Linked DNA regions of Homo sapiens: region 2 is linked to region 1. The links come from fine-mapping of genetic effects on gene expression. A gene starts in region 1. The other region holds a variant in brackets. All regions are shown on one strand. Distances are from middle to middle.

Region 1 (5,382 bases):
TCCCTGCAGCCACCTTAAGTCCAGCAGGCTGGAGGACATGCTTCCCTCCAAAGCTCTTCATTCACCCTCTTACCCAGGCCTACCAAGCCAGGTTCCTGGCTACTTCCTCCTATTATACTTTCCTTTGAACTGTTTCAGATACAGCCCTTCCTTTCCATTGCCATTGCTAAAACCCTAATCGAGGCTGTCATCACCACCACTTGGATTCATTCATGTATTCATCCAGAAAAGTTTTATTGAACACCAACTATGCACCTGGCACTGGAGCTATATCTGTGAACACAACAGAGGAAAAAAAATCCTTGCCACTGAGAAGCTTATAGTCTAGTGGAAAAGGCAGATGAAAAACTAGGAAATATGTTTTCTAGAAAATATTTTCTGAAAATAACTAGAAAATATAATATATATTAGAAATGTATATTAAATAATAATAAATGATAGAATGCTAATAAGTGCTAACCAGAAAAAAAAGAGCAAGGAAGTGAAAGGGTGGGTGAGTTGTTATTCATCTAGAGTGATTACAGCAGCCTCATGAGTAAAGACCTGAAAGAAGGAGGGAGCCATTTTGGATACCTAAGCATTTCAAGTTGGGGACACAGTGGAAGGATATCCTGGTGTATCTGAAGAGACTATGCAGGCCCTTGCACACCACTCTGAGACTTTGACTTTCATTCTGATTGAAAAGGGAAGCTCTCAACAGGTTTTAAACGTAAAAAAGGAACAACCTAATTTTTCAACTTTATTTTTAATAGCTTTCTTGAAGTATAATGGACATATAAACTGCAAATATTTGAAGTGTACAATTTGATAAGTTTTGACATATGTATATACCCATGATACCATCATCACCATAAAAATAATAAACATATCCACATCTCAAAAATTGTCCTTTGTCCTTTGTGTTTCATGTTTTATCAGAATCACTAGCTCTGAGAAACAGCACTCAACTGTGATGTTGAGAACAGGCGAAGGGGGACTCAAGGAAAACAGTCAAGAGGCCACTACAGAGGACAGATGATAGTGGCTCGGACCAGGGAAGTAGGTAAACAGGGGCTGTAACGAATAATTGATTAATCACTAATCTCATAACTTCTTGCTGCATATTCACTTCAATTCACTCTGAAGAGAAATGAACAAAAATGTCGCTTTCACAGGATAACCTCCCTTCAAAAAAGTCCGCTAGCTCCCAATTGCCCTCAGGCTAAAAATCGCAACTCTTTATGGCCCTGCTTTTTCTATTACCACTCTCAAATCTACATCTTGACCTTCCTGTCCTCTGGTCATTCCCCTCCACGTCCTTTCTATTTCACCACACTTCCACCCCCTCCCCCAAGTCTAAATTGTGCCCAAAGTCCCACTTTCTCCAGAAAGCCTTTTTTGAGGTCTCCATTGGAATCTCTCCCTTCTCGTATCTCCAGTTGCATTTGATGTTAATACCTCATAGCAAATTTATCCCTTTTTAAGTACCCAGAGCCGGCGGTGTAGAGCTCTCGAGCGAGCACCCCGCGTAGTCCCCAAGTGCGGGACTGGGCCTATGCTACTACAGGCGCTCGCTGCCTAAGCCTGTCTGTGTGTGGCAGTGTCCTAGTCGTCCTCCCCTCCTCCTTCGGCATCTGCTCTGCATTAGTCTGTCCCAGGCCTCCGCAGGCGCCGATGATTAAATCATCATCATTAACCAGGGCCTGCCCCCCCCATCCCCGGCAGCAGGGGGGAGAATGGGGGAATAAGATCACTACCAAGTCCCTGGGGGTCTCTCACTCCCCATCCCCCGGCACCCTCTCCGAGACTCTGCAAAGCCCAAGAAACTCCCTCCGTGAAGCCGGGAGAAGACCCGCCATCTGGACGAAGCTCCGCTACGCGGACGCCGACAGGGCGGCATTACGAGGAGAGGACCCAGGAGGGGCTTCTTCAGCAGGGTCGTCGTCACAGAAGACCGACGACCCTGAGCGGGTAGCGGGCACAGACTGCCAGGCCTTTGGGGGTAGGAGGGGGCAGTCTTTCGCAGGCTCCGAAAGTTAGTCTTGAGGTCGCGTAGGGCCTATTATGATGATTTCTACAGGAGGTTGAAGAGATAAGACCCTTCCCTGTGCTCCCCCCCCCCCACTCCTTAATTACGGATTGAGCAGGGGAGGGGCCGGTGGGGCTCAGGTGAGCACACAGGGAGAAAGGGACGTGGGCGGGGCCTTACAGAGGGTGAGCGAATCCGAAAAGACCTAGAACCTCGTTGCTGGGAGACAAGTCCCGCCCTGCAGGCGGCACCGGAAGTGGCCGGCTGGGATCAGCCTTTAAGATGGCGTCTCCTCAGGGGGGCCAGATTGCGATCGCGATGAGGCTTCGGAACCAGCTCCAGTCAGTGTACAAGATGGACCCGCTACGGAACGAGGTGCAAGGGCGGCAGGGTTACTGCTGTGGTCGGCCAGCGGTGCGAATTGGGGCGGGCTAAAGGACGGGCGGTGGCTGGCCGGGCGCCCAGTGCGCCTGCGCAGAGACAGAGTGCCCAGTGCGCCTGCGTGGTTGCGATCGGGTTGCCAAACTCCGGTTAGGACGCCTGCGCGTTGTGTCGCCGACGTTGTGTAGTCTCCCCTGGGAAAGGAGGGTCAGGCGAGTCCACGTGAGGGAAGCCCCCGCTGTGCGCGGAGCCCTCTGCTGGGCGGAGGGGGAGTGCCAGCCCCCAGGAGCTAATCCCCGGCTGATGGCGCAGGGCGCGGGGCTTGGCCGTCTAGTGTGATGAAGGAGGCGACCCCCAAGGTGGGAAGGCGCACGGGTTGGGGTTTGAGGGTGGATGATTGGTGACGGAGGGTGTATCTTCAGGAGGAGGTTCGAGTGAAGATCAAAGACTTGAATGAACACATTGTTTGCTGCCTATGCGCCGGCTACTTCGTGGATGCCACCACCATCACAGAGTGTCTTCATACTTGTGAGTGCCTTGGAGACTGCCTAGTTCTTCCAGTCCCTAGTCTTCACCAAGCTGACTGCCAGCTTCTGTGCGGCCTGCCTCACGCATCCAGGCACCCCACCCAGCCCATGAATCCAGTTTCCAGAGGGCCTGAGAATCTGCTTTTCTTTTCCTGCAGTCTGCAAGAGTTGTATTGTGAAGTACCTCCAAACTAGCAAGTACTGCCCCATGTGCAACATTAAGATCCACGAGACACAGCCACTGCTCAACCTCAAACTGGACCGGGTCATGCAGGACATCGTGTATAAGCTGGTGCCTGGCTTGCAAGACAGTGAGTCACCAACCTGACTTTGAGGGGCCTCTTGAGGACTAATTGCTGAGTGGCAGCTTGAGGTGACGGGTTTGGTAGGACTCACGTAGGCAGAAGGCCAAAGATGAGGGAAGGACAAAAAGTGAGGAAGGGCTAATACTTTATTCTTTTTTTTCTTTTTTTGAGACGGAGTCTTGCCCAGGCTGGAGTGCAGTGGCGCAATCTCAGCTCACTGCAAGCTCCACCTCCTGGATTCATGCCATTCTCCTGCCTCAGCCTCCTGAGTAGCTGGGACTACAGGCGCCCACCACCATGCCCAGCTAATTTTTTATATTTTTTAGTAGAGACGGGGTTTCACCATGTTAGCCAGGATGGCCTCAATCTCCTGACTTCATGATCTGCCCACCTCTGCCTCCCAAAGTGCTGGGATTACAGGCGTGAGCCACCGCGCCCGGCCCCGAAGGGCTAATACTTTATTCTCATACTTCACCTTCTTCTAGGTGAAGAGAAACGGATTCGGGAATTCTACCAGTCCCGAGGTTTGGACCGGGTCACCCAGCCCACTGGGGAAGGTATGTCCTTGGCCGCGGGACAGTAAAGACCCCAGAGCATTCTTCTTGCCCAGTTTTGCTCTCTGGGGAAAGAGGAGTATGGAATGTGTGCCACCAGCCACCTCACTACCCTATCTTTCTCAGAGCCAGCACTGAGCAACCTCGGCCTCCCCTTCAGCAGCTTTGACCACTCTAAAGCCCACTACTATCGCTATGATGAGCAGTTGAACCTGTGCCTGGAGCGGCTGAGGTGAGGAGAAGGTCAGGGGTTGCAGGAGGTGACAGTGCCAATGACCCAGAGCCAGGGAGGGTCTAGGGGAGAGGCTGAGCAGTGAGTGAGTGCCTATCCCCTTGAAGAGAGTATATCATGGCTCTGGGTGGGGAAGAGGAGGAAAGATAGGATTCCCTAACCTGTGTCTATTTCCCCCCAGTTCTGGCAAAGACAAGAATAAAAGCGTCCTGCAGGTGAGAAGGGCTGAGGGGAGGGCCTCTCTAAGGAGACTCACCTCCCATGGTCCTTCCCTCACACACCTTGCCCTCTTCCCTCCCCTCCCTGCTCCCAGAACAAGTATGTCCGATGTTCTGTTAGAGCTGAGGTACGCCATCTCCGGAGGGTCCTGTGTCACCGCTTGATGCTAAACCCTCAGCATGTGAGTAGTCCCACAGTAGGTTTCTTGAGGGGGAGAAGGGGCTAAGAAAGGAGGGACAGAGTCTAGGGTGGACCAGGGTAGTTTTTGACCTGCCAGAAAGTTCCTAAAATTATGCCCCCATCTCCCTCCTAGGTGCAGCTCCTTTTTGACAATGAAGTTCTCCCTGATCACATGACAATGAAGCAGATATGGCTCTCCCGCTGGTTCGGCAAGGTAAGCCAGGCCACCCTCCCTGGGATCACACCCCCTTCAGACTCCCCCCAACCATCCTACAGTCCTCAGGGGAAGGGTGGGCTGAGGGGCCCTTTGAATAATATAAGAACATTCCCCACTGACTACTACTTCCTCATTCTCTCCTTAGCCATCCCCTTTGCTTTTACAATACAGTGTGAAAGAGAAGAGGAGGTAGGGGCCAAGCCCCCACCCCATCCCACTCCCCTTCCCTCCCCAGATATTTATGTGAAATGAACTGCAGCTTTATTTTTTGAAATAAAAACTTTTAAAAAGCACCTCTCTTCTGCCTTATTCTTCCTGCCTCACACTCATGCTGTGTCCTGCCTTCTTCAAAAATCCTCTGAGTTTCATTGTGAAGAAGGGCCTGTCCTCTATGGCCATGGGCCCTCAATGTCTTGCCAAAGGAGAAGGGTAGAGGATCCCTATATGTGTGAAACCAGGCCTCCCACACCACTCTTTTTGGTGATGGGAAGGTTTCCTGGAGGGGAGCTCTCAGCTGTCTTTGTATGCTGCAGCATACAGTGCGGGTGCGGGCCTCTTAGGAGGTTTCCTAATTCAGCGGTGGTGAGAAGGCTAGAGTTGGACAGTGGCTGCTGCAGGATTGAACAAGTGTGATTTTTTAAAGAAAAATCCAAAGAATTGCATTATAGTTTTATAACTTGGGGGATGGGGACAAAAAGGAGGGAGAAGTCTAAAAAACAAATGGAGTGGGGCCACAGGAATTGTCAGAAATGGAGGCTT
Region 2 (5,382 bases), 680 kb before region 1:
TTTAGTTTAAATTTAGTTTAATATAGTTAAATTATAAATAAATCGTAAAATATTACACACTTATTAAAGAGAATTAGCAACTTACAAAAAAATAGTTTGAAGAAAAATAAATGTAAAATCAACGCTCATCTCACTGCCTAAGCACCACTATTGTCAATTCTTAGGAATTATTTCATGCCAAGACTTTCTTTCTTTTTTTTTTTTTTTTTTTTTGAGACAGAGTCTTGCTGTGTTGCCCAGGGTGGAGTAAAATGGCACGATCTCAGCTCACTGCAACTTCCGCCTCCCAGGTTCAAGCATTTCTCCTGCCTCAGCCTCCCGAGTAGCTGGGATTACAGGCGCGAGCCACCAAACCCAGCTAATTTTTGTATTTTTAGTAGAGACGGAGTTTCACCATGTTAGCCAGGATGATGTTGATCTCTTGACCTCGTGATCCGCCCGCCTCAGCCTCCCAAAGTGCTGGGATTACAGGCGTGAGCCACAGTGCCTGGCCCAAGACTTTCTTTCTATGCATAGAATCTTCATAATTATAGTCCTATAGCATATACAATTTTATTTTTCTTTTACATAATAAAGATATATTTTATGTAATAAACTTTATTCTATAAGATCATGCCAAGTGGTTACAAAGTATCGTAATTTAAATAATCCCTCATGCTTAAACCCTGGGGGGTGTTTTGAGATTTTGCTACAACATATAATTTGTCATCAATGTGTTTTAGCAAAACTAGCGCACATGGATGATTATTAGGATAAATTCTTAGAAGAAAAGTTGTTTGTTCAGAGTGTTAGCCATCTTAAGCCTTTTGCTTCATTCTGTTAAGCCACTCTTCAGAAAGCTTTAGTAATTTGCAGTGTGAAACAGAATATATAGATCCAACATATTGGAGTGTTCCTTTATCCATATTCCTAACAATTTTACAAAAATCTTTTCCAATTTAAAAGATTAAAATGTTAGTTATGTTTGCACTTCTTACTAGTGAGTATATTTTAATATATTTGTTATTCCTTTGTATTTGTGAATTAATAGAGCTTTAAATTTAAATCTTAATTTTTAAATTCCATATTGAATTGCAGAAACTGTAGGTTGAGGCTATATTAAAGGCTATAACCTTTTGATGGTCATGTGATATAAAAATTTTTTATATTTCAGGTTAAAATGTTCATTTCTTTTTCAGTGATTATTTTATATTATTTTATGTTGTTATATCTATCTGCCTTTTCTTTTGTGCTTTCTCTTTGTTATTATGCATAAAAAGACCTTCCTCAACTCAAAAGTAGGCAAATATGCATAAATAATTTCATTTACTGTACTTTTATAATTTAGTTGTTGTTTAATATTCCACTCCAATAATTTAATATAATTAGATTACCTCTTTTTTAAATGCCATATAAGTTTATCCTATTGTTCAAACACCATTTATTGATTGATCATTTCCCTACAGATTAGAAATATTACTTTTGTCCTACAATGAATTTTATTTATATTTAGGCTTTCTCTGATCTATCTACTTTGTTGACTATTTCTTTAATCGTATCAACATGCATATATGCTTCCTGATAAATTCTGGATTCATAATCTAAAACACCCTTATGGATAAGTCCTGTTGAAATTTTTACTGGAAATACAATAGATGCATTAAATTTAGAAATTAGCTTTGGAAAGAATTATTAGCATATCAAGTTTTTTTTCAGTGTATGAACATGATGCATAGTCTATGTAGTCGAGCTTTTAATATGATTTCTTTACAGTTTTTTACATTTTTCTTCTATAGATCCCACACATTTTTTAAAAAGTTTTATTATATATTGCATAATACATAATATAGAACCTAATATATATCATATTACCACATATGTTGTATATAAATTATATATATAAATTTAACTTTTTTGGTTGCTAATGAAAATACAATATTTCCCCTTGGTTTTTTTTCTAATGGATTATTATTGGTGTACTAGAAGGCTATTTATTTTTTAATAGTTATTTTGAAACCAGCTATCTTAATAAGTCCTGTAATTCAGTTGAAGTTCTAATGATTTTTCTGGTTTTTTTTCTCAGGTTTTCCTCAGATAATGGCATAGTCTATAAATCATCATCAGCTTTAATCTTACATCTAGTGTCTGTGTCCTTTACTTTTTTTATTAGATCTTTTAGAACAAGTTAATTAAAACTCATGATCATAAGCACCTTTTTTTTTAACCTGTGATGGTAATGTTTCTCTTAATATAATTGTTAAATATGTTGCCCATTGGCTTAAGACAGACATTTTAAAATTACATCATTTAATTTCTAGTTTACTAAGAGATTTAATCAAATCTAGATACTTAATTTGCCAATTGTGTTTTTGCCATCTATTAATACATTTTTTCATATTGCCTACTTTCCTAATCTTCAACTGTTCTAGAACTCCTAGAATAAACAATACCTGTTCTTGTGCTTTGTCCTTTTAGCACACTATTAGATTTACTTACTAACATTTCATTTACGTTTTTGCATCCTTGCTATAAAATACAACTTACATAAGCTTTAATTTTTTAATGCTGTCTTTTCAAGTTTAGGTTTAGGGCCATGAATAAGTGAAATAACTGTTTTCTAAAATTCTGTTGGCTGAAATAAGCGAACTTCAGTGAGAAGCTTTTCTTCCAACCAGTTTCCTAAATAATATAAATTCCTTATTTTTCTCTGTTTACTCATCATGCAGTAGCACAGGACTTTTGCTGAGCCTTTCAGGTGAAGCAAAAGAATAAAAGTAATAACACAATACGTTATTGACACAGAAAACTAATGGGAATGGAGTCTTCACAGTAGTTTGAGGATTTTACTCCCTCAGCTTAAGGGCTCTACCAGAAAATGATATAAAC[G/A]CAGAGAAAGAAACCCAGCCGTGTACTCCTTCCTGGGGTGATCAAGGCAAAAGCCAGCTTCGGACAGAGCAGGGGAGGGACTACTGCAGCGGTTCTCAGTGAGCAGAACTTCGGTACTCCATCTTTTTCCTGCCGTAGTACACGGTTTCCCCAGGAGACACATCCTCATGGGCACAGATGTTGACAAAACCCAGGGAAACGTAACAGATAAGCACAGTATAGCAATGCAGACTTTTTCACTTGGCTGTGCATTTTGTAAGACATTTGACAAGACTGTGATTAATATAGCTGTTGATTTAAGGATCTCAATAATTAACCTTTTTAGAGAAAAAACATAGATAAACGCTGCAATTTTTAAAAATTAAACTTTTCTTTTAAAACACTAAGTTTCATTTTTTCGAGGCCCTCCCTTCCCATAAACTATACAGTAAGAAAAGCAAGTAGATACTATTGAAGAAGAAATAGAAATAAATCTTACTTTGTGCCTCTAATGTATTCTTATTGCATGTAAGTTATTGGCTTCTAACGTTATTTTTAATACAAGTCAAGTTTGGCACATTTTCTTTTTATCATGACTTTGCTTTATTGTTATCTTCTACTGACATTGAACACACTCATGCTTGTAAATGTAGATCTAAATATTTATAGAGCTCCTACATCATATATACCTGAGATTCAGGGATACAATGGCAAGAATCAAACATGATTTCTGCCCTTCAGGAGCTTACAGTCAATTGGGAGAAATAAGTATTAATAAGACATTAATCCAATGATTATTCACATCATTGTATAATTTTAAACTGTCTTAAGAGCTAGTAAAGAACATTAATGCTATGAGAGTACAGAAATACATCGCTTAACAATGGGGATACATTCTGAGAAATGCGTCATTGGGTGATTTTGTCATTGTGCAAACATCATGAACAATGTGTAAGAACTTACACAAATCTAGATGGTATAGCCTACGATACACTTGGGCTATATATAGAATACCCTGTTACTCCTTGACTACAAACCTGTACAGCATGTAATTGTACTAAATACTGTAGGCAATTTGGAACACAATGGTAAGTTTTTGTCTATCCAAACATACCAACCCATAGAAAAGGTAATGTGTTGTGCTACGACATCACTAGGCAATAACAATCTTTCAGCTCCATTATAAACTCATGGAAGCACCATCATATACTTAGTCTGTTATTGACTGAAACATTGTTTTGTGGCGCATGGCTGTATATGAAAATTCACACTGTCAGTATGGCTCAGGGCTGAGATCTAAAGGAAGAGCGGGAGTTCAGGGTGAGAGTGTCAGGGGTGGGTATTGTGGCAGATACTATAGATTGACCACATACAAGCCATTTACAGTTGCCTGCCCTTTGCAGTCCCCTACTAGTGATGCTGTCCACATCCCAGCCTTCCTTGCAGGGAGCACAGGCCATGAGAGAAATTTTGGGGCAATGGGGGTACAGGAGAAGTCCCTAGGTTGAGCGTCTCTTCCTGAATAAAAAGGCAACAGCCACAAGGAGAAATGCTTTTTCACTCTTAGCTTTCCCCTTTCTTGCTGTCTGAAACACAGGCGAGAGGCCTGGAGAAGAACACCAGGTTTCATCTATGAGAACAAGCCCTGTCTAATCCTTAGCCTAAGCTAAGGGTTGTGGATCAGAAAGTTAGAAAGTACCTGGAATTCCCTTGAGTACATCACTGATCCACAGACCAGCTCTAAACTGACTAGCTCTGGGCTTCTTGTTAAGAAAAGCAATGAAACCGCTAGTTCTTTGAGCGCTTGATAAACAGACGTTCTGTTATTTGTAACCAAATATAGTCTTAGCTAATTAAGAGGAGTGAGGTCAGGTTGGGAGGAAAGAATTGTAAACAAGTTAACTGCATTTATGAAAACCCTGGGCAGGAGGAAGCATGACTCCTTGGAGGATCAAATACTTTTTATTTATACTTTCCATCTCTTACATTAAAAATTTATCCATGAATAAAACTAAAACAAAAAGGGAAGAAACATAAAATCACAACTTATAAGCACTATGGTAATTCATTACCACCCCAACTATTAATGGGGCCTCAGTAACAAACTCACTGCAGGCTGGAGTTCAACTAGATAGTCTGAGCATTATTGGAATTTGACACTATGAATTCATCGTTTATTTCATACTCAGAAGAGCAAATGAATGAGTGACATGACCATAGGGATAATGTTAAATCCACTATGGTTTTTAAAAATAATTCTAATATCTCATTTTATATGGGGAAAGATAAATTAATTTTAACATCAGACAGTTAAGAACCCGTGGTCTGGAGTATGTTTTCTTTGTCATTTTTTTTTCCCCTTAATGAACCTGCTCAGATTATATTTCCTTTTTTTTCTTTTTAAATTATTTTCTAGATGTTTTTAAAGGAAATTTTGGAAAGAAGCTTTTCAAAATGATCCCTCAATTTTTAAATTCATATTTGTTTTTGAGGCTAATAAAATTAAGAGGAGTGGGAGAATGTTGAAGAGTGGGGAAG

What was found. PIP is the estimated chance that this variant, and not a neighbour inherited with it, causes the effect. A credible set is the group of variants that fine-mapping cannot tell apart.
Region 2: its variant is the best candidate, but not a certain one, in a credible set for the expression of PCGF1 in T cells (TOPMed, PIP 0.88).

The regions. Positions count from the first base shown.
Region 1 is chr2:74,504,577-74,509,958 of GRCh38, reverse strand. PCGF1 (polycomb group ring finger 1) reads left to right here and starts at 2,264. Exons shown (of 9, transcript NM_032673.3): 1 at 2,264-2,383; 2 at 2,812-2,917; 3 at 3,075-3,227; 4 at 3,707-3,778; 5 at 3,902-4,007; 6 at 4,189-4,222; 7 at 4,321-4,407; 8 at 4,540-4,620; 9 at 4,769-4,916. The coding sequence starts at 2,291. The coding sequence ends at 4,816. LBX2-AS1 (LBX2 antisense RNA 1) reads right to left here. Exons shown (of 2, transcript NR_152616.1): 2 at 4,894-5,382. RefSeq lists enhancers at 1,455-1,514, 2,255-2,434, 2,071-3,001.
Region 2 is chr2:75,181,203-75,186,584 of GRCh38, reverse strand. The region is part of intron 1 of TACR1 (tachykinin receptor 1); the gene reads left to right. All of the region lies in intron 2 of TACR1-AS1 (TACR1 antisense RNA 1), which reads right to left. Among named protein-coding and RNA genes, the nearest start is that of TACR1, 16 kb to the left of the region's middle. The variant G/A (reference allele first, on the strand shown) is at 2,866.